Linked DNA regions of Homo sapiens: region 1 is linked to region 2. The links come from fine-mapping of genetic effects on gene expression. A gene starts in region 2. The other region holds a variant in brackets. All regions are shown on one strand. Distances are from middle to middle.

Region 1 (12,719 bases), 150 kb after region 2:
CTCATTAAGCCCCCTTTATTGGCTTGCTTTCTTTCCTGAATCACTTTTCTTCCTCTTTCACTCCTGCTTTCTAGATTACTGCTCCCTGCATCCAAGTCTTTATCTCAAGCTCTACTCTCAGGTGCATCTAGATCCAGACACCCTCTTGACTGTGTGCATCTATTTTAGCTGTGAGATGCTGCTTTAGCATCTCTTGCCCTTTGTTGATCTCATTTAATGATTTCTTTCTAGTAGACTATTACTTGTGGGGCGTAAACAGCTTATCTTATTGTGATGTGAGTGGGCACCATCCAACTGGCTGCCAGTATGGGTAGAACAAAGCAGGTAGAAGAAGGGAGATAGGTTTTGCTGAGTCTTCTTGCTCTCTTTCTCTTCCTGTGTCAGATGCTTGTTTCCTCTCCTCAGGAAGGACATCAGATTCTATGTTCTTCAGCCTTGGAATCTGGGACTTAAACCAGCAGCCTTCTGGGGGCCCTAGGGCCTTTGGCTTCAGACTGAGGGCTGCACTGTTGGCTTCTCTGGTTTTGAGGTTCTCAGACTTGGACTGAGTCATACTACTGTCCTCTCTCCCTCCCCAGCTTAGAGACAGCCTATCAAGGAGACTTCTCCTTGTGATTATATCAGCCAATTCTCCCTCTTTTGTATACCTATATATCCTGTTGTTTGTGTCTCACTGGAGAACCCTGATTAGTACACTTATTCATTATTGGTCCCTAAGCAGGTACATAGTGGACCCTCAACAATGTGTAAAAGGCACAGTGCATGAGAGCTGTCTTCAGATATCTGAAGGGTTACCTTGTGTTTACATATGTCTGGGGAACAGAACCAAGACCAAAGAGTAGAAGTTACAGGAAGACAGATTATAATTCAATACATTGTTTATCAGTGCACCTATGGGAGGTGATATTTGATAGCAACAGTAACAGTGGCTCATTATGGCATGATGACCCACTCAGGGAAGATATTTGCCCACTCTTCTGCTGAGAAGTCCTATTATAGAAAGTTTTATAGAACAAGGACCACAAGCACATACCTGCAAGGACCAGGCTGGCATATAAACTAGTGAGGCAGGCTAAGTGTCACATAGTTGGGAATGGTGAGAACTGTGTGGAATAAAGTGTGTGTACCCTGACTCAAAGGGGTAGGTACTCCTTAGCTCCAGCCAACAGTTGCTAGACAGTAATGCAGATCCAGCACTGTCAGACCTTCCAGTTTTCCAAAAGTAAGTAGAAATCCAGATTCTTAGGTAAATCTTCCAATATAAAGACATTTGAGTCAAGAAGGCATCACCGTGGCTGGCTATGGCACATGGGTTGTTTGTAATCTTTGTGTAGTGGATGTAGCTGAGGATGCTAAAGCCTCAGATGTGAGGATAGCTTTCTAGAGAGCCAGATTCTGGTCAGCTTGCTCTCTTCAGGCCCATGAACACACTCTGCCTGTTCCCACCTTGGGCCTTTGGCCATCCTCTCTTCACAGAAGGGACACTGTGTGGCTCAGGCCCCTCTCCTGTGACATCTCCCACTACTGGTCCTTCCCCAGCAAGCCCTGTCTTCTTGGTGCACCTTCAGCATTTCCAGCACTCAGATGTCTGCTGCAATTGCTCACTGTCTAGTAGTGTCATAGTTTGTCTTATCTGTGTAACTAAGTTATAAGTTCCCTTAATGCAGAGGTTCTACTTCATGTGGCTTTCCTGTCATTTGGAGCACAGTATTGGGTGCATAGCAGGTGCTCAATAAGAACTGTTGGTTAACTTTTGCTAGATGACTATCATACTCAGTGCTTATGGCATCCCTCTTAGTAGAAGATGAGGTAATAAAGAAGAGGCCACCAGCTCTTGCATGGAGAACTTAAAATTAAATCAGTGAAGCTCTTTCAGATGACTCAGTGCTTTTGGCATTGCTCTTAGCAGAAGATGAGGTAATAAAGAAGAGGCCACTAGCCCTTGCATGCATAGGTTAAATTTAAATCAGTGGGACTCTTTCAGAGATGAAATAGACATGTCCTCTATCTACTGTTGACCTGCTGTCCTCAGAGCTTAAAGTGGCGCTCAGTGTGCCTCACCTGTCAAAGGCTTTCCCTCACCATTTCCCACCAGAGATCCAATAAAATAACCAATTATGTGTGCCCTGATTTAGATTCCTTGATTAGAGATGGGTTCTGATCATAAACTATGTAACCATCTTTTAAAGGAAAACGTTAATAGGCAACTCTTTGTTACAAAGATTGCCTAAAAGAAAAACTAATTTTAACTGTTTACAATTATCCATTTTTATATTCTTTCTCTTTTATTTGAAACAGATTTTGTTTTAGAAATCTCTTTTCTCTCACATCTGTAAAGCAAAATACAATATAAACAATTCTCAGTCATCTGTGATAATGAATATTAGGGTATACTTTGGGCACTGAAGTTTACTAATTGTTTCCAAACTTTATTTTAGCAAACTTTCCCCACTTTTTGGTGAGGATGCTAGTGAGTATAAATTGTTAAAATAGTATGTCTCCTTTATATTCCATATTGTACTTGTCTCACTACTGTTTATTTAGCCTAGTTTCAGTGCAGTTTTGTTACAAGGAGAAGGATTTGAATTATGCATTCAACAAACATTTATTGAACCCCTACTAAGTGCCAGATCCTATTTTAGCTGCTAGAGATAGTTATGAAGAAACTAGACAAGGCCCTTGCTTTCTTGGAGCTGAGCTTCCATTGGTGGGAGACAACCACAAACCAATGAACAAATGAACACACAGGAAAATATTGGATGGTGATAGGTGTTGGGAGCATAAAATAGAATGGAGAAAATATGTATGTGTGTGGGCTACTCCAGATTGGAGTTGAGTCTCTTCAAAGCTGTGACATCTGAGTGTTGAACCACAAGAAGGAACCAGCCATGTGAAGATCTTGGGGAAGAGCATTTCAGGACAACAAAACAGCTACTGCCAAGGGCCTGTCACAGGAGCCACATGGTGTGCTGGAAGCACAGCTCGGAGGCTGGGCAGAAGGAATTTAGCCAATATAATTTATTATACAAGCCAAAATTATTAGCAACAAAATGAAATATTTATTTTGCAGTTTAAGTATATATAGCCATGAACATTTAGATTTCAGAATTTGTGCCATGATTTCATGACTAGATTCAGTAATTATTTAAGATTCACATTGGAGAAAATCAGTGTTCTGAAGACTATGACGTATATCCCGCTTTGAAGTTTTGGATTTTTCTTGAATAGGATAGGCCATTAACAATATTGGAGGAAAATATCATCTAGTGTTATATTCTTAAATTGAATTTGCCTTGGAAGTAATCATGCATGCAATGAACATAGTAAGAAACAGCTTCTTTCATCCTTTAATGTAATAATTGCTCCCAAGGATTACAAGAGCTTATAGACAGCTGGAACATCCAGCTATAATGTTAGCTGGACAGGGAAGAAAGTTGTTATGGATAAAGCTTCAGATTTTCTTGGATTTTTTGGTATCTGTATAACAGAGACCTGATGAGTTGCCAGCACATAACAAGCCAGAACCCTGGATCCAGAGAGCATTTGTGACATTCAGCCAACACAGAACTGCTTTCCCACCCAAAGGGTGGTCTCCAAATCTGTTGTAGCTTTTGGCAAGATTTTTATATCACAATTGAAAACAGATGCCCTTTCTGCCCTTTCCCTTGTTGTCTGAGTTACTACCGTTCAAGAGATTGCAAGCCATGGCAATCTCTCATGCACCTTCAGAATGCCCAGCAAGAGTCCTCGTTAGACATTCCTATTCAGAAGTCCTGCTGTGACACACTTCCTCTGCAAGAAGAGAACAGATTCAGGAAGGTGCCAGGATTGTGAGGTTCTGGTAGTCTGCAGGGTGTACTGTGAATGCTTTTTGTCAAAATCAAAGCACCAGTCCTGGGTTTAATAGAAAACATCTCTCTGGATAGTTTCTATTTTAAAATATTTAATCCTAAAATAAAATATTTAATCCTAAAGAAATATGTAATCCTAAAGGAAAACCAAAGTGTACTCTCCCTGATGGACTATATTGAGTTTTATTACAGGATATGGCCCTAAAATGTGCTTGGATGGGATATTGAAAATCCAGAGTATCAAAAATCACTAAACTACTAAATTCTTGATTGACTAAAAGAGACTTATTAGACATAACAACTGAATATAATGTGTGGAATTTGTTTGGATCTTGGTGTAAACCAGTTGAAATGTAAACTGGTGGACAATTGGGAAAATTTAAATATGGACTGAATATCAGGCAATATTAAGGAACCACTGGTAATTTTGTTAGGTGTGATAATGATATAGTGGTTATCTACGAAAGTAAGAGTTATAAGGACAGTGCTGTGGAGGGGAAAAATGAAACCTGAAACTTTAATAAGATTTATTGGTTCAAACACCACATGTTCTCACTCGTAGCTGGGAATTGAACAATGAGAACACATGGACACAGGGAGGGGAACATCACACATGGGGGCCTGTAGTGGGGTGGGGGTAGGGGGGAGGGATAGCATTAGGAGATATACCTAATGTAAATGACGAGTTAATGGGTACAGCACACCAACATGGCACATGTATACATATGTAACAAACCTGCACGTTGTGCACATGTACCCTAGAGCTCAAAGTATAATACAAATAAATAAATAAATAAACAAGAAAAATCAAGGGCAAAAAAAAAATTATTGGCTCATTAGTAGAAATGTAAAAGTGCTTCAGAAAAAGTAATCATAGTTTAGGGGAGAGGAACCTAGGGGCAGACCCAGGAGGAGAGAAAGTCATGTAGAAAAGGAGATTTTGAAGGATGTTCAGTGTCCTTCAGTGGAAAGACACTGCCAGCTCTAAATGGCTCTGCAAGGGAGGAGCCGGGGAATAAATCCTCTGACATCACTCTCTTCCCTCCCATCTATTGCTGATCTTTTCCTGCTCTCAAATCTAGATGGCAAGGGACTCACTGGTGTAGTCTATACAGGTCAGCCTTTGGGGCTGATAGTAGGGTGGAAAAGGGCAGAGAGTAGGACTGGGGTGTAAACAAAAGCTACCAGTAACAGCATCTTCTTTACAAAGTATAACAATATGGGGGGAATGTTGAAGGATAGATACTTTTGGAAGAAGCCCTTCATAGAATTATAAAATGTTAGGGCTGGGAGTATCCTGAGAAGTGATTCTCAACCTCATTTTAGAGGTGAGGAAATAAAGGGAGCATTATACAGGTAGCAATTTGTGTACAGCTAGTTGTCACAGATCTGTTAAGAAATTACAGACTTTTTGATATGAACAGACACTTCTCAGAAGAAGACATTTATGCGGCCAAAAAACGTGAAAAAAAGTGCATCATCACTGGTCATTAGAGAAATGCAAATCAAAACCACAATGAGATACCATCTCACACCAGTTAGAAAGGCGGTTATTAAAAAGTCAGGAAGCAATAGATGCTGGAGAGGATGTGGAGAAATAGGAATGCTTTTACACTGTTGTTGGGAATGTAAATTAGTTCAACCATTGTGGAAGACAGTGTGGCGATTCCTCAAGGATCTTGAACTAGAAAGACCATTTGACCCAGCAATCCCATTACTGGGTATATACCCAAAGGACTATAAATCATTCTACTATAAAGACACATGCACACATATGTTTATTGCAGCACTATTCACAATAGCAAAGACTTGGAACCAACCCAAATGCCCATCAATGATAGATTGGATAAAGAAAATGTGGCACATATACACCATGGAATAATATGCAGCCATAAAAAAGGATGAGTTCGTGTCCTTTACAGGGACATGGATGAAGCTGGAAACTATCATTCTCAGCAAACTAACACAGGAGCAGAAAACCAAACACCACATGTTCTCACTCATAAGTGGGAGTTGAACAATGGACACATGGACACAGGGAAAGGGGAACAACACATACTGGGGCCTGTCAGTGGGTTGGGAGCTAGGGGAGGGATAGCATTAGGAGAAATACCTAATAGAGATGACGGGTTGATGGGTGCAGCAAACCACCATGGCATGGTATATCTATGTAACAAACCTGCACATTCTGCACATGTATCCCAGAATTTAAAGTAAAAT[TA/T]AAAAAAAAAATTATAGACTTTTTGATTTTCAGCCCTGTCTCTTTCCCCTAGGCCTGGGAATTTTCATAAATTTTCCAAAATTTTCCCAGACCCACCACACCAGCTCAGCAACTGTTCAGCATGGGTGAAAATGGTAAGGAAGTCTCAGTTGTTATTCACAGGAATGTGTAAGCATTATAGACATAGCCATTGCAATATACCATGTTTCTGTAGCTGAAATTACAGTGTCACTGTGGGTAATCTGGAAAATACATATATGTGTCAAAAGGAAAATAAAATCACCCATAATGGACCACAGAGATAACTAATATTAACATTTTCGTGCTTTCCTATCAGTTTTTTAAATTAAAATATACATAAATATGTGTATGCAAAATTAGTATCAGTTGTACATATAGTTTTGTAGGTTGTTTTTTCACTTAATAATGAATAATTTCCTATATATCAAATTGCCTTAGAATCTGAGTTTTGATAGCAGTAATATTTCAAAAATGAATATAGCATAATTTTTAAAAGTCCTCTGTTATTAGATATTTGTTTCTTATTTTCTTCTATGATAAATAATGCTGCAATATATATATATAGGTACATATATAAACATTATATATCCCATATAAATAATTGTGTTTATCTGGGACATATAATATTTTTATTTAAAAAATTGCCACCATAAGAATTTCCAGTGGTCCTTTCTGTTGGGGCAGAGTGGAAAGAACATGGCTCTAGGGCCAGGCATCCCTGATCTGTTTGGCTTCCGCCACATTCTGGATGTGTGTCCTTAAGCATGTCACTTCACTCTATTGAGCCTCCTTCTCTTTTCTGTTAACAGGGATCATACTGCACATCCCTCAGTGCTGTGATGAGAACTTTATGAGGTAGTACTTTTCTTTCTTTCTTTTTTTTTTTTTTGAGACGGAGTCGTGCTCTATCGCCCAGGCTGGAGTGCAACGGCGTGATCTCAGCTCACTGCAACCTCTGCCTCCCAGGTTCAAGCAATTCTCCCACTTCAGTCTCTCAAATAGCTGGGATTACATGCACCCACCATCATCATGCCCAGGTAATTTTTGTACTTTTAGTAGAGATGGGTTTTCACCATGTTGGTCAGGCTGGTCTTGAACTCCTGACCTCAGATGATCCACCTGCCTCGGCCTCCCAAAGTGCTGGGATTACGGATGTGAGCTACCGCGCCTGGCCTACACAAAGTAGTATTTTAAAGTGTTTGGCATGTAGGGTGTACTCATTACATGTTAGGTCTGTCTTCATTTGGGATGGATTAGATTGCACACAAGTATATGCACATGTGTGTTGAGTGAAGTGAAGGAAATATAGTTACAAGATTTTATTCAGTATCAAGAAAAAAGTAAACCTGACTTGCCGATAGACACATTTCAATTGAAAGAATCCTTTCAGCAAGAGAGACCTATTGAAGTTTAAGATACTGATAATGAAAACAGAAATGAAAGTCTTTAAAAGTGTATTTTTCTTTATACTGGGTTGTCCAGTAACTATTCCTAACCTCCTTCCCCATCCTCTTCCTTCCTCAGTGCTCATCTTCAAACTCTATCAGCGGGCAAAGCATGTGTACAGCGAGGCTGCGCGAGTGCTCCAGTTTAAGAAGATATGTGAAGAAGCACCTGAAAACATGGTCCAGCTGCTGGGAGAGTTGATGAACCAGAGCCACATGAGCTGCCGGGACATGTATGAGTGCAGCTGCCCCGAGCTGGATCAGCTGGTGGACATCTGTCGGTGAGGCAGCCTGGTGGGGGCCAAGGGATGCCATCAAATAATATTGTTTAAATTAATGGAAAAAAATGCAACATTTCATAATCTACGGGAATGAAGATCATTCCCCACTTCCTATATGAGGAGTCTCTGATGATACAGAGCTACACTTGTTCCCTTCTAAATACCTGTAGGATGAAAGATTTGCTACCTGGCTCCATGATTTTATGAGGCTCTGGGTTTGGAGTCAGTTTGGAGTCAGCTCTTTACATCATGAGAAAGACCTTTCCGTCTTTGGATGATTAGGCCTTTCAGGATGGTAACTTTGCTCAGAGCTGGGCCCTGTTAACTTTCTTATGATATGTTTTATTATACTGCTGCTCTGCCAGAAACTCCTGTCCAGTGTCCTAATTAAGTTTAGTAGTTCTACTCAGAAGAAGGGAGAAAACTGACAGAGGATCTCAAGCTTGATGGGAGCATGTGGGGAGATTTGCTGAAGGAATCACCCAGAAAGCCAGCATTTCCTGCCTTCTAGGTTTAGTTTAGGCAGTTTGAGGAAATAAAGGCTGAAGAAAGCCCAGGTGATACATGGTTAATAGAGGCAGAAATGTAAAGAGGACAACTCTTTCACAAAGCCTAAAATCAGCTTTCCTAAAATTGTGAAAGAATGGAGATAACAGAGTTAGTCCTCTTACCCAGGAAGGAGCTCAGTGACCCTGGGAGAACTGAAACTGGGAAAGTTCTCAAACGCTAGATGTTACTTCACTGTGAGAACACAATGCTACACTACAATTAGTAATGGAAATGTAATTAACCACTTGGCACTTGTGGCTTGCCTCAGTCATTGCCACACTCCCAGCCTGAAAAGTTTAAACCAAGTAACTCCAGTGATCACAAATGGCCTGGGTAATCCAGCTTGTCAAAAGACTTGAACACAGCATTGATGAAGATCACTCTGCTGACATGTTTGCTCACTCATTTCCAAAAGCCTTCCCCAGCTTGTTTCATTTTAAGTACCCTTTTCTGAAAATATCAAGGGCCTAGTATATGGAAGGGACAAATATTGTTCAGTTCTGGAAATAAGAGGAAGTGGAATTATTTCTGCAGAGATCAGGAAGAAATGTCTTTGCCTGGAAGGAAGTGGGATGGTTGGAATCCCACCTGAAAAGCTGCGGAAGGGCATTTGCCAGCTTCCTGGAATTCTCTAATAAACTTTCTCTTCCTAGAGTGGTCAACCTGTACTTGTTTTCATGGAGCTTACATTCTCGTGGGGAAAGAGAGAAATGACAATTAAAAATAATTTGAATGGTAGTGATAAGTGCTATGGAAAAAAATGAGAAGGAATAGAGACTACAGGTTTGGGTGGGTACTCTTTCTGTGGAGTGGTTGAAGAAGGTCACTCTGACGAAGAGATCTTTGAGCAGAGGCCTGAAGGAGGTGAATAAATGAGAACAGCAAATGCATAGGCCCTGAGGTGGATACTTGGCTGTCAGGTGTGAGGCTCAGCAGGATCAGCATGGCAGAGGGCCAGGAAGGAAGGAGAGGTAGTAGATGAAGTAAGGAAGGAAGTGGGGAGCCACACCATATAGGCCGTGTAGGCCATCGGAAGGCTTCTGGCTTTGAGAAGAGAAAGGGGGCAATGGAAATGCTAGGCAATTCTATGCCAAATATGCCTGCAAGGAAGACTTAGATAATTGCTGTGTGGGTATAAGAGAGAAATCAAGACGACTCCTGGGTTTTTGTCCTGAGAAACTTTCCTTGTGCCTCTAAAAGCCACATTTTTGAAAAGCACACTTCACCACTGTAGGTAAGAGTTATCTTAGAGTACCATAAAATATTAGATCAGGAAGGGGTCTTAGAGATCCAGGAAGGCACTAAGAGATGAAATAATTTGAGTAAGTTTCACATATGAGTTCATTGGAAAGCCTGGCTCCCAATCCAATGATTTTGCCACACGTGCCTCTCCCCTTGGGTTATACTAAGATGTGATTACACTTAAATGTGGGTCATACATACGTGTGTGTACGTGTGTGTTTGTAACCTATTTTCATCTCCTAGCTTTGAAGCTTTATGATGGAGGCCTTTGTTGTCATAGTTTCCAGCATTTGAACATTAAGCAAAGTCATGTTGAGCAGGAACGTAATGTGTAGAGTAGGATGAAAAGTGGGCTGGAAGTGAGGAAGCTTGGATTCCGACTCTCTTTTCATTCTGAGCTCTGTGAGCTGGAACTGTTGCTTCGCTTTGTGTTCTCCATTGGCTTTTTCTGTTCTAGCAGTCTACAGACCTATACATTTAAAAAATATGGTTCTAGTGAAAAAGCTTATGGCTATGTCTTAAATGGGTTTGGAAGAGTACCTTTTATTTATCTTTTCATTTTGTTTGTTTTTGGAAAATCCTTTCTTAATGGCAGCTAAAGTGTTTCATTTTCATTTGCTGTATTTATTTTCTGAGAAAAATTCAGTTCTGTGAAAAATTCAGGAGCTCCATCACTTTTTCATGATTGTTTTGTTTGGAAAGCCAATTGCTAAGTATCAAAGTTATTTTCTACTTATTCGATAACCATATAGGGTCCAAGTTTTCCATATTGAAAGATTATCTTCTGGCTTGTTGGCCAGAATAGTTGTCTGGTCCTTAAAGCTTCTTATATAATTAATTTTTTCTTTGCTGTCACTGTGACCAGCAGATAATATTCTTCAAATGTTTCAGTTGGCTGCAAGTTACTGAAAGGTCCTAAGTGGCAGAGCAACCTCAGAGGAGGATAGCCCCAGGGGAATTAAGTTGATGCAGGCATTATGTCCTTCCCTCCTTCAATCAATACATATTTTCACATGGGTATCTTTGTACCGTGTGAAATTGCAGTCTATTCTCTACTTTCAAAAGCTGTGACTTTCTCTTGCCGGGCCCAATTGCTCACACCTGTAATCCCAGCACTTTGGGAGGCCAAGGCGGGCAGATCATGAGGTCAGGAGATCGAGATCATCCTGGCTAACACGGTGAAACCCCATCTCTATTAAAAATACAAAAAATTAGCCGAGCGTGGCGGCATGCGCCTGTAGTCCCAGCTACTCGGGAGGCTGAGGCGGGAGAATGGCGTGAACCCGGGAGGCAGAGCTTGCAGTGAGCCGAGATCGCAACACTGCCCTCCAGCCTGTGGGACAGAGCAAGACTCCATCTCAGGTAAAAAAAAAAAAAAAAGAAAAAAAAAAAAAGATGTCTGGAAAGTAATGAGGCAAGAAGGAGGGGTTCAGAAGAATGCAGAAATTAGTGGGAATAAGATAAAGGATGGATAAAGGATGGGGAAGACAGACGGTACAAGAGTAGCAGGTAGTAACATGGGGAAAGGTTCGAATGAACAGTGGAGCTACTTGTAAGCCCTAGTTCCTTCTGAAGCCTTGTGACTGTCTCACTGGGTCAGGCAGAGAAGGTGTTGGACATACTGGAAGGGGTCCTGGCAAGGCCTGGTGTGAGCCACTGGTGCCACAGACACAACCTCTAGCAAAGTATTGCTTTGTTTAAAAACCACCACCACCTCCACAATTACCCTGCCACCATTAAAAATGTTAACATCAGTAGGGAAGGTGTGACTAAGACTGGGCAGCCTGAGCAGGTTGCTTGTTTTCCCCAAAAGAGGGAGGAGGAGGGAAGCTGAAATGGGTTCAAGGAGGAGCACTGCCAAAAATAATCTTTACATCACCCTCCCTGGTCCACTTATGGCACTTCAAAATTCCTTTAGTGTTTCTGAAGGGCTTCTTGGAAACTATTTGTATGAAAAGACAACTAATTGAGTGAGTAAATTAACGGCTTGAATACCTAGAATACCTAAGTTGCTATACACAAGCAGAAAATCTTACAGTGATCTGAGCTAGACTGAATTAAAAAGGCATCTCCTACTTAGCATATAGGACAATGTATAGAACAACTTTGTGACCCAAGTGGAGAGAAGGGGGGTTGGGAAAGAGCACCACTGCTAGCTGTCTTTTTCAGTTGAACCTTTTCCTGCTCTTCAAGAGAAAATCAGTTTAGAATCTAAAGAAAGGAGCAGGGAGGATGAAGGAAACTATACTTACAGAGTGAGGCTTTTTTAAAAAATTAAATTAATGTTAGAACTTAAATTATATGAAACAAAGTAAATAATGAAGGAAAAAGATAATGTTTGCTGAATTATAAAGTATCTTTTGTAGCCAAACAAAATGTAAACAGAAAGAAATGACTAAATTTTAAGTAGAATTTACTGGAGAACACAAAACAATTTTGAAACCAAGTCAGTTATATGTGAGACAGCTCATTCACTATTGGTTCCCTCGTTTTACTTAAGACAAAATGGTTAATGCCTTTTGTTTTTGTTTTGACACTTGTTGAAGTTAGAGAGGATTAATTGCTGCATTATCGCCCAAGCTATTAAGGGAGATGAATGACAAATTTTAGTGGATCAACTATGATTACAAAAGTTAATTTACTTTGTCTTCCTCAGAAGTCTTTCTGCAATGTATTCCATGGTGAGGCTGCTCAGCCTCTCGCATCCATTCTTCAACAAGGTCATAATGGGGAAGAATGAAGTGCAAATCCATTGTTGCATGCTCTTTCCCCATGACCTTAAGTGCTAACATGCATACCCTGTCAAAAAAAAAAAAAGAGGGAGGGAGCCATTTCACCTCCCCTTAGGGGTTCACTTCTCTTTGGGCCTCTTTGACTTATGAATATACATGCCATTTGCAGGACCCAAACCCACTGCTCTTCAATGGCCTTTAAGTGGCTTACATTTCTAAAGTAGACATGTGGGCATATTTTCTTATCCTTTCTCATTTGAACACTGAAGGCTGTGGTTTCTTGACTGTAAAGCAATTTGAAGGCACGGTGTCTAACCTGGCTGTAAAAATCATAGAAACTGCTAGAAGTTCCCTTACCTGTGACTCTTGCCATTTCC
Region 2 (12,719 bases):
AGATTGTTAAGTCAATCCTGATAGGAAAGATGATCTCCTGTGCTGGCTTTGAGGAAGGCAAGTGCCCATGTTGGGAAGGACAACACAACAGGGAGCTGATGGTGGCATCTGGTTAGCAGCCAGCCAAAAAATAAAAAATATGGTCTTAGTCTGACAGCCCACAAGGAACTGAATGCTGCTAACAGCCATGTGCTCTTGGAAGTGAATCCTTCCCCAGTTGAGCCTCAAATAAGCCTTTGTGAGACCTTAAAACAGGATGGAAAATTGTGAGATAATAAATGTGTATTTATTTATACTACTACATTTGTAGTAATATTGTTACGCAGAATAGATGTGAATGCAGTTAGTAAATATCTTGTAGTGAAATGGTTGGGTCATATGGTAGGTATATATTTAACTTTTTAAGAAACTCTCAAATTGTTTTCCTAAGTGGTTTTACCATTTTGCATATCCAACAGCAGTGCATAAGAGTTCTAGTTGCTCCACATCCTTGCCAACATTTAGTGTGGTCAATCTTTTTAACTTTAGCTACTCTAGCAGGAATGTAGCAGTATACTATTGTAGTTTTAATTTGCATTTACTTAATAACTAATGTTGAACATTTTTTGTGTGCTTATTTGTCATCTATGTATCTTCTTTGGTGAAATGTTTTTAAATATATTTTGCCTATTTTTTAAACTGGGTTGTTTATCTTATTACTGTTGAGTTGTAAGAGTTCTTTATGCTTTTTGTGTTGTATTCATCTTTGTCATACCTAAGGGCGCTGAGATTTTCACTTATGTTTTTTTCTGGAAGTTTTATATAGTTTTACCTCTTCCATTTAGGTCTGCGATCCATTTCAAATTTAATTTTCGTGTATAGTGTGAATGAATGTGGAGGTTCATTAGTTTGCATATGGATGTCAAATTGTTCCAGCATCATTTGTTGAAAAGATACGCTTTTTCAATTGAGTTGTCTTGGCACCTTTGTCAAAAATCCAATGACAGTTTAATTGTCAGCATAATTTGATCCTTTTAAAATATATTTTTCATAATTGTATGCTACCTTGTATTACAATTATTTCCATTTATTCATTATTAAACAGAAAGCTCCTTGAGGACACAACTGTCTTTCTTACTTCTGAATTCTCTGAAATGCAGCATATGCCTTGCTTATAGAAGATTCTCAATGAAAATGTGATGTGTTTAAGTAAACTTTAGCATTCATGACTCTTCACAGGCCTTGGCTGAGTCATACCAAACAGGTTTATGATTTGGCATCCTTTCAGACCAATCATCTTTAAAATTTTTTTTTACTATATTAATTTGGGGAGACTGAACACTGTGTGTTAGAAGAGCAGAAAAAGAGGACTCCTTTTGTATTAGTAAAGTTCTGGAAAGAAAACTCGTGGCATACTCAGGGAAGTTAACTGAAAATTTAATTAAGGGACTATTTATAGAGATGGAGGCAGGGTTAAGGGAATCAACAACTACTTATACTAAGCCTTCAGAATGCTCCAGACTGCAATTATATCTTTCATCTCTATAGTTGACATAGGAGGAATATGCTAATACAGTATGATTAAGCATTGAAGGGGTTCAGAATATGCCACCCCAAAATATGCTACTTTGGCCTAAGTATTATTTTGAGCCGAAGCCAATTGACAACCAGTAGATGCAGTTATGTCAGTCACTGGAGAGCATTAGCAAATGTATTCCAAAAAAAAAAAAAATTGCTTAAGATAATAACCACAATCAGCTCCTCATTGAGGTGGGCAACATTGGATGGTTATGACAAGGTGAGGAAAGAATTGTCTAGTTTGAAGATTCTTGGTACTATATTTAGTTTCTAGGTGAAGAAATAAAAAGGAAGGCTGGGCATGGTGGCTCATACCTGTAATCGCAGCACTTTGGGAGGCCAAGGCAGGTGGATCACCTGAGGTCAGGAGTTCAAGATCAGCCTGGCCAACATGGTAAAACCCCATCTCTACTAATCATACAAAAATTAGCCGAGCGTGGTGGCGCATGCCTGTAATCCCAGATGCTCCGGAGGCTGAGGCAGGAGAATCGCTTGAACCCAGCAGGCGGAGGTTGCAGTGAGCCGAGATCATGCCATTGCACTCAGCCTGGATGACAAAAGCAAAACTCCGTCTCAAAAAAAAAAAAAAAAAAAAAAAAAAGAAATAAAAAGGAAAAAACAAAATATAGTTTTAAATTGGGGCAATTTATCTGTAGTTTGGTCAGGCTAATGTACACTGTAAGCTTGAAATGCAAATTTCTAATTTCAGAGTCTAAATATTTGTTTCTCAGATTTCATTTTGATGATGGAATGTATACTAGATGCAGAGTTTGCATCAATTTTTGTAATATATTCATTTATTTACTTAACTAATTTTAATTTGCCATAATAGCAGGAGCTTTTTGTTTATGTTTATTGTTGTATCCCCAGTGCCTAGAATAGTGCTTAGAACATAGTAGCACAGAGAAACATTTGTTAAATGAATGAATGAATGATAGAATAATGGATGAAACATGGAATATGAATTTTAGTGGAGGTGACAGGTAATAAGTATAAAAATCAATAAATAATGTAATTTCAGATGGCCTTAAAGACAGCAAACCAGATTTAGGTGATAGAGAATAACTGGAGAGAATGTTGGGATGGTTTTTAAAATCTTCATAATAACCCTATGAAGTAGGTATTTTTATCTCCCTTTTTTAGAAGAGGAATTTCAGACTTGCCTAGGGTCACAAAGTAGTGGAACCACGCTAATCTGATTTCATTAATTTATTCCTTCATTAAACATTCCTTGAGTGCCTGCTCAACACTGAGCCAGAGTCTATAAAATCAGAGTAAAACAGTCTTTGCCTTCAGGGAGCTTATAATCTAGCTCTGTGCTGTCTAATATAGCAGCCACTTGTTTCTCATCATAATTGAGATATGCTGTAATTGAGATATGCTGGATTTTGGAGACTTATTTAAAAAAGTAAAATGTCAATAATTTAAAATATTATATTTAAAATGATATTTTGGTGTATTAGATAAAATATATTATTAAATTTAACATTTCTTTTTATTGTTTTGAAAGTGGCTTCTAGAAAATTTAAAATGGCATGTTTGACTTGCATTGTAGATTCTGATTCAGTAGGTCTGGGCCCAAGATAATGTATTTCTTTTTTTTTTTTTTTTTATTGAGACGGAGTCTTGCTCTGTCACCCAGGCTGGAGTGCAGTGGTGCCATCTCCGCTCACTGCAAGCTCCGCCTCCCAGGTTCACGCCATTCTCCTGCCTTAGCCTCCCGAGTAGCTGGGACTACAGGCGCCCACCACCACGCCCAGCTAATTTTTTGTATTTTTAGTAGAGATGGGGTTTCACTGTGTTAGCCAGGATGGTCTCGATCTCCCGACCTTGTGATCTGCCCGCCTCGGCCTCCCAAAGTGCTGGAATTACACTGCGCCCGGCCCAAGATAATGTATTTCTAAAAACTTTCAAGTGACGCTGATGCTGCTGTTCTGAGGACCACACTTTGAGTAGAAAAACTTAGACTAGACAGAAAACAAGTAATTAGAGTACTGATGTGATGCTTTGTATGACTGGGCAAGCAGAGGGTGCTTAGAGTCTTCGTTTTGTTTTGCTTTGTTTTTCACTCTGCAAAACAATCTATGTTCGGTTAAAGCATTTTTGCACAATTTTTATTTCCTCCATAACTACATAAATATAGATTTCTCTGATTCATGAGTTTATCTTTTGCCATTTAATGATTATATACACTAGAGAGCAGTATCTATTTTATGAACAGAAGAATAAGGGGCCGGGTGCAGTAGCTCACGCCTGTAATCTCAGCACTTTGGGAGGCCGAGGCAGGTGGATGGCCTCAGTTCAGGAGTTTGAGACCAGCCTGGCCAACATGTTGAAACCCCATCTCTACTAAAAATACAAAAATTAAGTGGCAGGCACCTGTAATCCCAGCTACTCGGGAGGCTGAGGCAGGAGAATCACTTGAACCCGGAAGGCGGAGGTTGCAGTGAGCCGAGATCGCGCCATTGCACTCCAGCCTGGGCAACAAGAGCGAGACTTGGTCTCAACAACAACAACAAAAAAGAAGGAATGTAACATCATTATAAAGAAGACATAAACAAGTATTACATATTATTTACTATAATGAGAAAATATCCAAAATAGGTCACTGAAGTAGATTCTCCCAATTGTGAACAATAGTTTTTATTGTAAGTCAAAATAGGAAATATTTTCCAGAGGTTGCACAAACAGATTAAACCACAGAAATAACATTATTTCAGATAAATGGTCAATCCCTCTGTGGTCTTAGACATTTAGTTTTGGGTAGAGAACATGGAAAACTTCCTGAAGGAAGTGATTTCTAAGCTGAGAAACATCAATAGGCACTAGCCAGGTCTGTAAGTCTCTAACACCCATGCTTTAACTCATATTTTGGATCAAGTTTTTGTATTCTTTCATTTTAGTGTTTGTTTTGTTTTTGTTTAGTTTGCTATAATATTTTATCTGAATGGAGACTAATATCCTTTGAGGAGAAACAATTTCAAGTTTATTAATTAGGTTTCTGTTTAAGACTCCATCATAATATACCATTTATTAGTTTATAATTCAGATTCTAAACCTATTGTAAGAGTGCCTACTTGCAAAAAGCAAAGAACCAGAGGTTCAGGATTTGTGAAAATAAAAATACTGTAAAATATAAATGTTTAAATATTTTCTTTTCTTTTTTTTTGAGATGGAGTTTCGCTCTTGGTTGCCCAGGCTGGAGTGCAGTGGCGTGATTTTGGCTTACTCAATCTCCATCTCCTGGGTTCAAGCGATTCTCCCGCCTCAGCCTCCCAAGCTGCTGGGATTACAGGCGCCCGCCACCACACCTGGCTATATTTTTGTAGTTTTAGTAGAGATGGGGTTTCACCATGTTGGCCAGGCCGTTCTCGAACTCCTGACCTCAGGTGATCTGCCCACCTTGGCCTCCCAAAGTGCTGGGATTATAGGCATGAGCCACTGTGCCCAGCCAAATGTTTAAATGTTTTCACTATTAGATATGTCTAATAAGAACTAAAGGAATATCTTCTTGAAATTGAAAAGGAAATAATATTTTTCTATCCCATAAGGATTGTTGGAAAGGTTTAAAGAGACAATAATATACGCAAAGTGCTTACTTAGCAAGATGCCTAGTATAAGGAAGGTAGTATAAGAAAGTAATGTTTTGTTTTTGGTGTCCATTTGGGGTTCTCTAGTAGTTTGGACAGGTTATTTTAAGAGTAATCCTTTATGAAAATTATAATGTACACATTTTATTTTGGGACAAGGATTCTAATCATTTCAATAATTTATTTTTAAGCACAGTTTACTGGGGTCTCAACAAAAGTCACATATTCAGAAGTAGTATGGCCTCTAGGCTAGGAGTCTAGAGACCTAGGTTTTAGTTCTAGCTCTGTTAATCCTGTTTTACTTTGTGCCAATCATTTCAAAAAAGGATGCTTTACTAATTGCTCTGTAAGGTGCTTTCTAGTCTGCATCGGTTTTGTTGAGACTGCAATAGCAATGTATCCAAGGTCCAAACTAATGATTTGCCATCTGGTTTCATTTAGCAAAGTTAATGTTCGGTCATCAAGTACATATTCAGTAGGAAGTATTCTTTTTCGAAACAGTTTCTACAGTCATTTTTTTTTAACCCTGTATAAAATGAGTTTATTTTGGACTGTTAAAAAAATTCAAAACTTTAAAATTTGTTATTTTTCAACTAATGCAAAAGAATATATTAGAAACATCTGAATAAAAAATGATTCTGGGCTGGGCACGGTGGCTCACACCTTTAATCCCAGAATTTTGGAAGGCCGAGGTGGGCTGATCACCTGAGGTCAGGAGCTCGAGACCAGCCTGCCCAGCATGGTGAAACCCCGTCTTTACTAAAAATACAAAAATTAGCTGGTGTGGTGGCGGCTGCCTGTATTCCCAGCTACTTGGGAGGCTGAGACGGGAGAATCGTTTGAACCTGGGAGGTGGAGGTTGTAGTGAACAGAGATCATGCCATTGCACTCCAGCCTGGGCAACAAAGAGCGAAACTCCATCTAAAAAAAAAAAAAAAGATTCTGTTCTTTTCTGTATTTACTGATGTCCCTAAACATTTTACATTTTTTTTTAAAATTTAGGTTATCTCCCTATTAAAACTATTTACAAGTGACAGTGATGACTCCTGTTACTCAAAATTAAACCAAAATGAACATCAAACTGGGATTTATTGGGGCCCAGAAACAAGAAGATATAATTCATTCATTTGAAAATGATAAAGAGGGACTGAAATAATAGTGAGAAAGCTGCCCTGAGACCAGAGTAACTTTGTTTCTTTGATGTATCATTTACAGTAATAACCCAACGGGGTGCCAAGGGGCTGCCACTCTTTGGCTATGCTTTATTGTCCATTCACACTTTGTCTCCATGTTTCCTTCCCCCTTCCTCCTGTATACATGTATACAGAAGGGGGAAGGAAACATGGAGACAAAGTATGCATATACATATAGAAATTCTGGAGCAGTAACTTACTGATGTATACAACTTATCGAATCTCTCTGAGTTATGCTACTACCCCTAGTGTGTTGGGCATGTTGGCTCAAACTTCCTTAATCAGGAAACTTTGGAATGGGTTTATTGCTAGCTGTCTTTGCTTGGGTTTAATCTCAATATTTCTGAGGTGCAAAGTGCACTAGATTGAGAGTTAATAGATCTGAATTTTAATTCCAGTTTTGTTCCCAATGATCACTGTGACCTCAGGCACATCATTTCACCTTTCGTCGTTCATTCAGTTTATCTTACCTATTCATTAAAAACCAATCTGCCTGCCCCCAGTTGCTTTCTAGTGGTAGTGATGATGGAGGTGGTGAGAGACACAATAAATACATAAGCAAATAGGAGAACTATGAAGGAAGGAAAAGTTAGTGATGTACTAGGGATAGTGTACTTTTGATAGGGCATCTAGGATTTCTCTAGATAAGTGAAAAATGAAGAGGTTTAACTGGATGCTAAGGGGTCTTGCACATTAAAAGGCATGTGTTTCCGTCTTTTCACTACTGTGTTCTAGGAAGGCCCACCAATGCCTCTAACCTGTAAATAAATGCAAATCTATTTAAATCAAGTGATACATCAATTTTATGTTGCTTGATTTGGAAGTAATCCGCAAAGAAGCAATAGCTAAACATTTTAGTGTTGTTTGGGGAGTAGCTGCTGAACAATAAAGACCAAAACCATAACTAAAAAACAAACAAACAAACAAAAAAACGCAGCCCGAGACAGATCAGAAACTAGGTGTATGTAGGGCGCCAGGTTATGACACTGTTCTCTGACATCCACAGGGCGCAAAAAGAAAACCTCACTAGTCAGCTTCGCACGTGCTCTGCGCAGGGGCTCCTGCGAGGCCCTAGTCCCTCCCTGGGAGCTAAGAGCAGGACGGAGGCTGTACCTGACTGCTGCTTGGAGGGAACCCTGGCTGAGTCCAGGGAGGAGGAGCCAGAGGAGGGGCCGATTGGAAGCAGCCACCTCAGCGAAGCTGCAGGATTTCCGCAGGGCGGGAGCTGTTTATCTCCCGGAAGAAAACGGCTCCTGTCACAGAAGTCTCGTGATTGCTCTGGGAGCTTTGCTTAGACACTTGAAACTACAGGAGAAAGAAGGATCTAGCGAAATATGGCTACAGAGAGCCCTGCTACGCGTCGGGTCCAGGTGGCAGAACATCCTAGGTGGGGGAGAGGAGACGCCGGGCTTTGGGATCTGCTGGGTTGGCTACGTGTAGATCGGGTCCACAGCACTTGGCTCCTCCCTTGGGGCGCTGCTTTTGGTCCCGGGGAGCAAGTGGAACCCTTGGGATTCTATAAGGACACGTGGCTGGGCTTGCAAAAAAGATCACGCCGCAAACACATTCTACCTTGACTACTACGAAGGGTTGTATGTTTTTTTCTTCATCCATGCAGATTCTTCTTTTCCTTTTCTTGTTGTAATTAGTGTACTCTTTCTACTGGGCTTCAGCAGAAATGCCCATATCCACACTGAACTCCTCTCTTTGTCTCGCATGCCAGTTGATACTGCTTTTTAAAAGTCTTCTTTCTAAATATTAATTGAAAACAAACACAAAAACCTTCTTGGTGTCTGCATCCTCTTTAAAACAAAACAAAACAAAAACACGAGAATCTCTGAACTGTCACTTAGGGAATTAATTTGCTGGCAGTCCCTAGCTACACAGTAACTAATAGTTTAGTGATGTCTCGGGGAGGATCTTTTCAGTTACAGGTACTTTGTAGAAATACTTCGTTCTGACTAATGGGGCTGAGGTCTCATAAAATGAAGTCTGTCACCTGCTACATTAGCGAAGGGCTTTCCTGACTCTCTGCTTTTGCTGTTTTTCTTTTCTTTTCTTTCTTCCTTCCTTTCTTTTTTCTTTTTCTTTTTCTTTTTTTTTTTTTTTTTGAGACGGAGTTTTGCTCTTGTTGCCCAGGCTGGAGTGCAGTGGCGCCATCTTGGCTCACCGCAACCTCCGCCTCCCAGGTTCAAGCGATTCTCCTGTCTCAGCCTCCTGAGTAGGTGGGATTACAGGCAGGCGTCACCACACCCGGCTAATTTTGTATTTTCATCAGAGATGGGGTTTCTCTATGTTGGTCAGGCTGGTCTCGAGCTCCTGAGCTCAAGTGATCCGCTCACCCTGGCCTCCCAAAGTGCTGGGATTACAGACGTGAGCCATCGCGCCCGGCCCTCTGCCTTTGCTGTTTTCAGTTTTTTTCTGTTAGTTTTTTTCTCTGGCATCAAGTCCTTAAGCTCTTCCTACTTGGTGGTTTATTACCACCGTGTGTCAGTTGATGATATTATACTTTACTACAACTTGAAAATGTTCTTTCATCCTTAAACCAGCAAACAGTGTGTCTTTAGTTACCAGAAAGAAGCATGATTTCTTATTATAGAGTCCAGCACAGCTTTGGACTACTTCTCAATGTCTTTGAATGTTTTAATATACTCTAGAGGTTCTTGTATAGCACTGTTGCCCTTATATATTTGAATTAATTAAGACACACTGTTAAAGGCATGCTTCCAATAAGATTAATGAGAAATTTGTTACATGAAAATAACTTGATCTCTTGTAGTTTAGTCTTATTTTTTTTTTTTGAGACAGAGTCTTGTTCTGTTGCCCAGGCTGGAGTATAGTGGCGCAGTCTCCGCTCACTGCAACCTCCACCTCCCAGGTTCAATCCATTCTCCTGCCTTAGCCTCCAGAGTAGCTGGGATTACAAGTGCCCGCCACCACGCCCCGTTATTTTTTTGTGTTTTTGGTAGAGACGGAGTTTCGCCATGTTGGCCAGGCTGGTCTCCAACTTGTGACCTCAAGTGATCCGCCCGTCTCAGCCTCCCAAATTGCTGGGATTACAGGCGTGAGCCACCGTGCCACGTCTATAGTTTAATCTTCTACATAAAACATACCCATGTGTAAATTCCTAATGTGTTTCCATTTTATGTGATTGTAATAATAAAGATCAACATTTCTATCTATATTTACCCTGTTTGGGGGAGGATGGTGGTAACAAGTATAGGTACATGTACTAAAAGTGAAGAATTGTTTACTGAATTTCCTTAGTGTTCTTCTTGCTTTTCATGATTTTTATATTATTCATGTAACAAATATTTATTGTTAATATTTATTCTGTGTTATCCACAGAAGAGATCATAGTAGATAAGCTCTGCCGTTTTCTTGTTTTTCATTTGTGCACAAAATGCAATTATTAGCTTCAAGCAATGTTTTATTTGCAGGAATGTTTTGCAGCCACTTACTCATTCTAGGAGGGATGTATTTTATTAAATCTAAATAGTATAATCTATAAATTCACCTAACCGGTCAAGTATTGCAATATGCTGAGAAGGAAAAAAAATGAATGAATGGTCAGCCTGCTTTCTTGTGGAACTCTTATTCTTTTTCCAGGATGCCTCTTCAACCTCACAAGGCACATGATCCTTTGAGTAAAGGCACTGGTCAACCATATCATACATTTTAGTAAAACTTAATTTTATTTTTATTATTTTTATGTAAAAATCAAATAGAAATTGAAGTTCTAATATTTTCTTTCTGTGTCCCACTCTTGCATGGTACCGGTACCGTAAGACTCTGAATTTCACTGTTCTGGCTTTCTTTGCATTCTTAGCAGTTGTATCTCTTATCTTTACTTTCTCTTTTGGATTAAGTTTTAAAACTTGTTGGATTATTGCTATTTTTGTAGCAGTTTTATTGACATTCACGTATCATATAACTAATTCATTTAAAGTTTGCAATTAAATGGGTTTAATGTATTCATAGAGCTATGCAACCATCACCATAATCAAATTTAGAACGTTTTCTTAGAAAGAACCCAGCCATCCCTTAGATTATCACACCCCAGAACTCCATTCCCTTTCCCCTCACCTAGCCTTAAACAACTACTGCTCTGTTTTCTGTATTTATAGATTTAGTCACTTTGGGCATTTCAAATGAATGGAATCATATAAAATGTGTGTTTTTTTGGTGACTGGCTTCTTCCATGTGGCATAATGTTCTGAAGGTTCATGTATCAGTACATCATTTAACATGTATCAGTATATCATTCCTTTTTATGGTTAAATAATATTCTAGCTTATGGATATACATTTTGTTTATACATTCAACAATTGATGGACATTTGGGTTGCTTCTATCTTTTGGCTCTTATGAATAATGCTGCTGTATGAACACATTCTTGAGTCTCTATTCTACCAGTTGAGCTAGCAGGGTGACACTGAATACATTTTTAATATTAAAAATTTGGATTATTTAAAAGTATATTCAGTAAAGCCTGAAAATCCCACAGTTTCTTTCCTGATTGTCTCTGATTTCTACCCTTGGCTGCCAATTTCTACTTCTCTTCTTAGAAGTTATTCATTTGGTTTGTATCCTTGTAATATTATTGTGTCCTTATATCATTGTTACTATATTTTATAAAAATGATATATTCACATAAGTCCAATAATTATATTTGTTTTTTTTTACTTACTTTTTTTCACTTAATCTTTCTCAGATATCTGGTATATCAGTTCATACAGATATATTTCACTATTTTTACTTATTTCATTTTATTTTTTGAGACAGAGTCTCGCTCTGTTGGCTGGAGTGCAGTGGCACTATCTTGGCTCACTGCAGCCTCCGCTCTTGGGTTCAAGAGATTCTCCTTGTCTCAGCCTTCCAAGTAGTTGGGATCACAGGAATGTGCCACCATGTCTGGCTAATTTTTGTATTTTTAGTAGAGACAGGATTTCACCATATTGGCCAGGCTGGTCTTGAACTCCTGACCTCAAGTGATCCACCCGCCTTGGTCTCCCTGGGATTACAGGCTGAGCCGCTGTGCCCCGGACTATTTCACTGTTTTTAAGGGCTGAGAGTATTTTGTAGTATGAATACCATTATTTAACCACTCAACATTTAGTACACTTAGATTTCTAATTTTTCTCTCTTGTAAACAATGCTGCAACAAACATCCTTGTGTACATATACATATGTACATATATGTATATATATTCTCTGAGCATTCTTGTGAATTTTTTAAAGCTCATTTATGAAAATGGAAGCAGAGCCAAAGGTAATAAACATTTAAAATGTTGATAGCTCCTGTCAAATGGCCCTGCAAAAAAGATGTTATTGGATTGCCTATTTCTTGCTTTTTTGTTTGTTTGTTTTGTTTTTAAGAGACAGTCTCACTCTGTTGCCCAGGCTGGAGTGCAGTGTCATGAACTCGGCTCACCACAACCACCACTTGCCGGGTTCAAGCAGTTTTCCTGCCTCAGCCTCCCAAGTAGCTGGGACTACAGGTGCTCACCACCACGCCAGGCTAATTTTTGTATTTTTAGTAGAGACAGGGTTTCACTATGTTGGCCGGGCTGGTTTCGAACTCCTGACCTCGTGATCTGCCTGCCTTGGTCTCCCAAAGTGCTGGGATTACAGGCATGAGCCACAGCACTTGGCCTATTTCTTGTTATTTTTAGAAACTCTTTTTATATGTGTGTATTTTTGTATTTGTATGTATTTTTAATAGAAACCATTTATTCTATATATATTATAAATATAGTTTCTAGTTTAACTTTATGACATCTTATGTAGACATTTTATAATTTATGCATTGTAGTATGTTGAATAATAATGATGATAGCATCTTTGTCTTCACCCTTATTTTAATATGTCATCCAAATGACCACCAGAATGGTGAGATAGTAGAAAGAAGAGCTTTATTGGCACTATCAGTTTGTAGACCAGAAGAGAGAGTCTGCAGTGTGGACTGAAGGTGTTCTAACTTCGAGTAGGGAAGAGGAAGTTTGGGTTTTAGGCCCCACAGAGTCTGTCTTATACAATAGAGTCATACATATTCAGTAGGTTTTGGGGAAAAGCTATACATATTTATGAGGGGAGCCAAGCACATGCGCAGTGGGTAAACATATATGTAACATACATCCCATGTTCCCTTCGTGGCAGGTTTTAGCATTAAAATGAGGTGGAATTTGGCTCACATAACAAGGTGAGCTATAGGACACAAAGACAGTTAGTGCACAGCCTTTATAGGCTGGCTGAAACTAGCTTAAGGTCTGCAGTTGTTTATCAGAAAAGAATGTTTGTAAGGCTGGTCCTCTGTCCAATCAGAGTTGTAGTGGCCTGGATCATAAGTCAGAGTTAGGAGGTGTCCAATAGCTGCTATT

Direction of the effects. Positions count from the first base shown, and alleles are read on the strand shown. Sizes are in standard deviations (SD) of each study's normalised expression.
In carriers of allele TA in region 1, the expression in monocytes of the gene that starts at base 7,599 in region 2 tends to be lower than with T alone (moderate effect, 0.47 SD a copy in BLUEPRINT).

What was found.
Region 1: its variant is fine-mapped to the expression of GALK2 in monocytes (BLUEPRINT, PIP 0.94).

What each region holds. Positions count from the first base shown.
Region 1 is chr15:49,311,987-49,324,705 of GRCh38, forward strand. It overlaps GALK2 (galactokinase 2), which reads left to right. Exons shown (of 10, transcript NM_002044.4): 9 at 7,618-7,819. Among named protein-coding and RNA genes, the nearest start is that of FGF7, 100 kb to the right of the region's middle. The variant TA/T (reference allele first, on the strand shown) is at 6,072.
Region 2 is chr15:49,162,649-49,175,367 of GRCh38, forward strand. It overlaps GALK2 (galactokinase 2), which reads left to right and starts at 7,599. Exons shown (of 10, transcript NM_002044.4): 1 at 7,599-7,727. The coding sequence starts at 7,675. MIR4716 (microRNA 4716) reads right to left here and starts at 6,505; the gene lies at 6,422-6,505. RefSeq lists enhancers at 7,011-7,915, 7,547-7,786.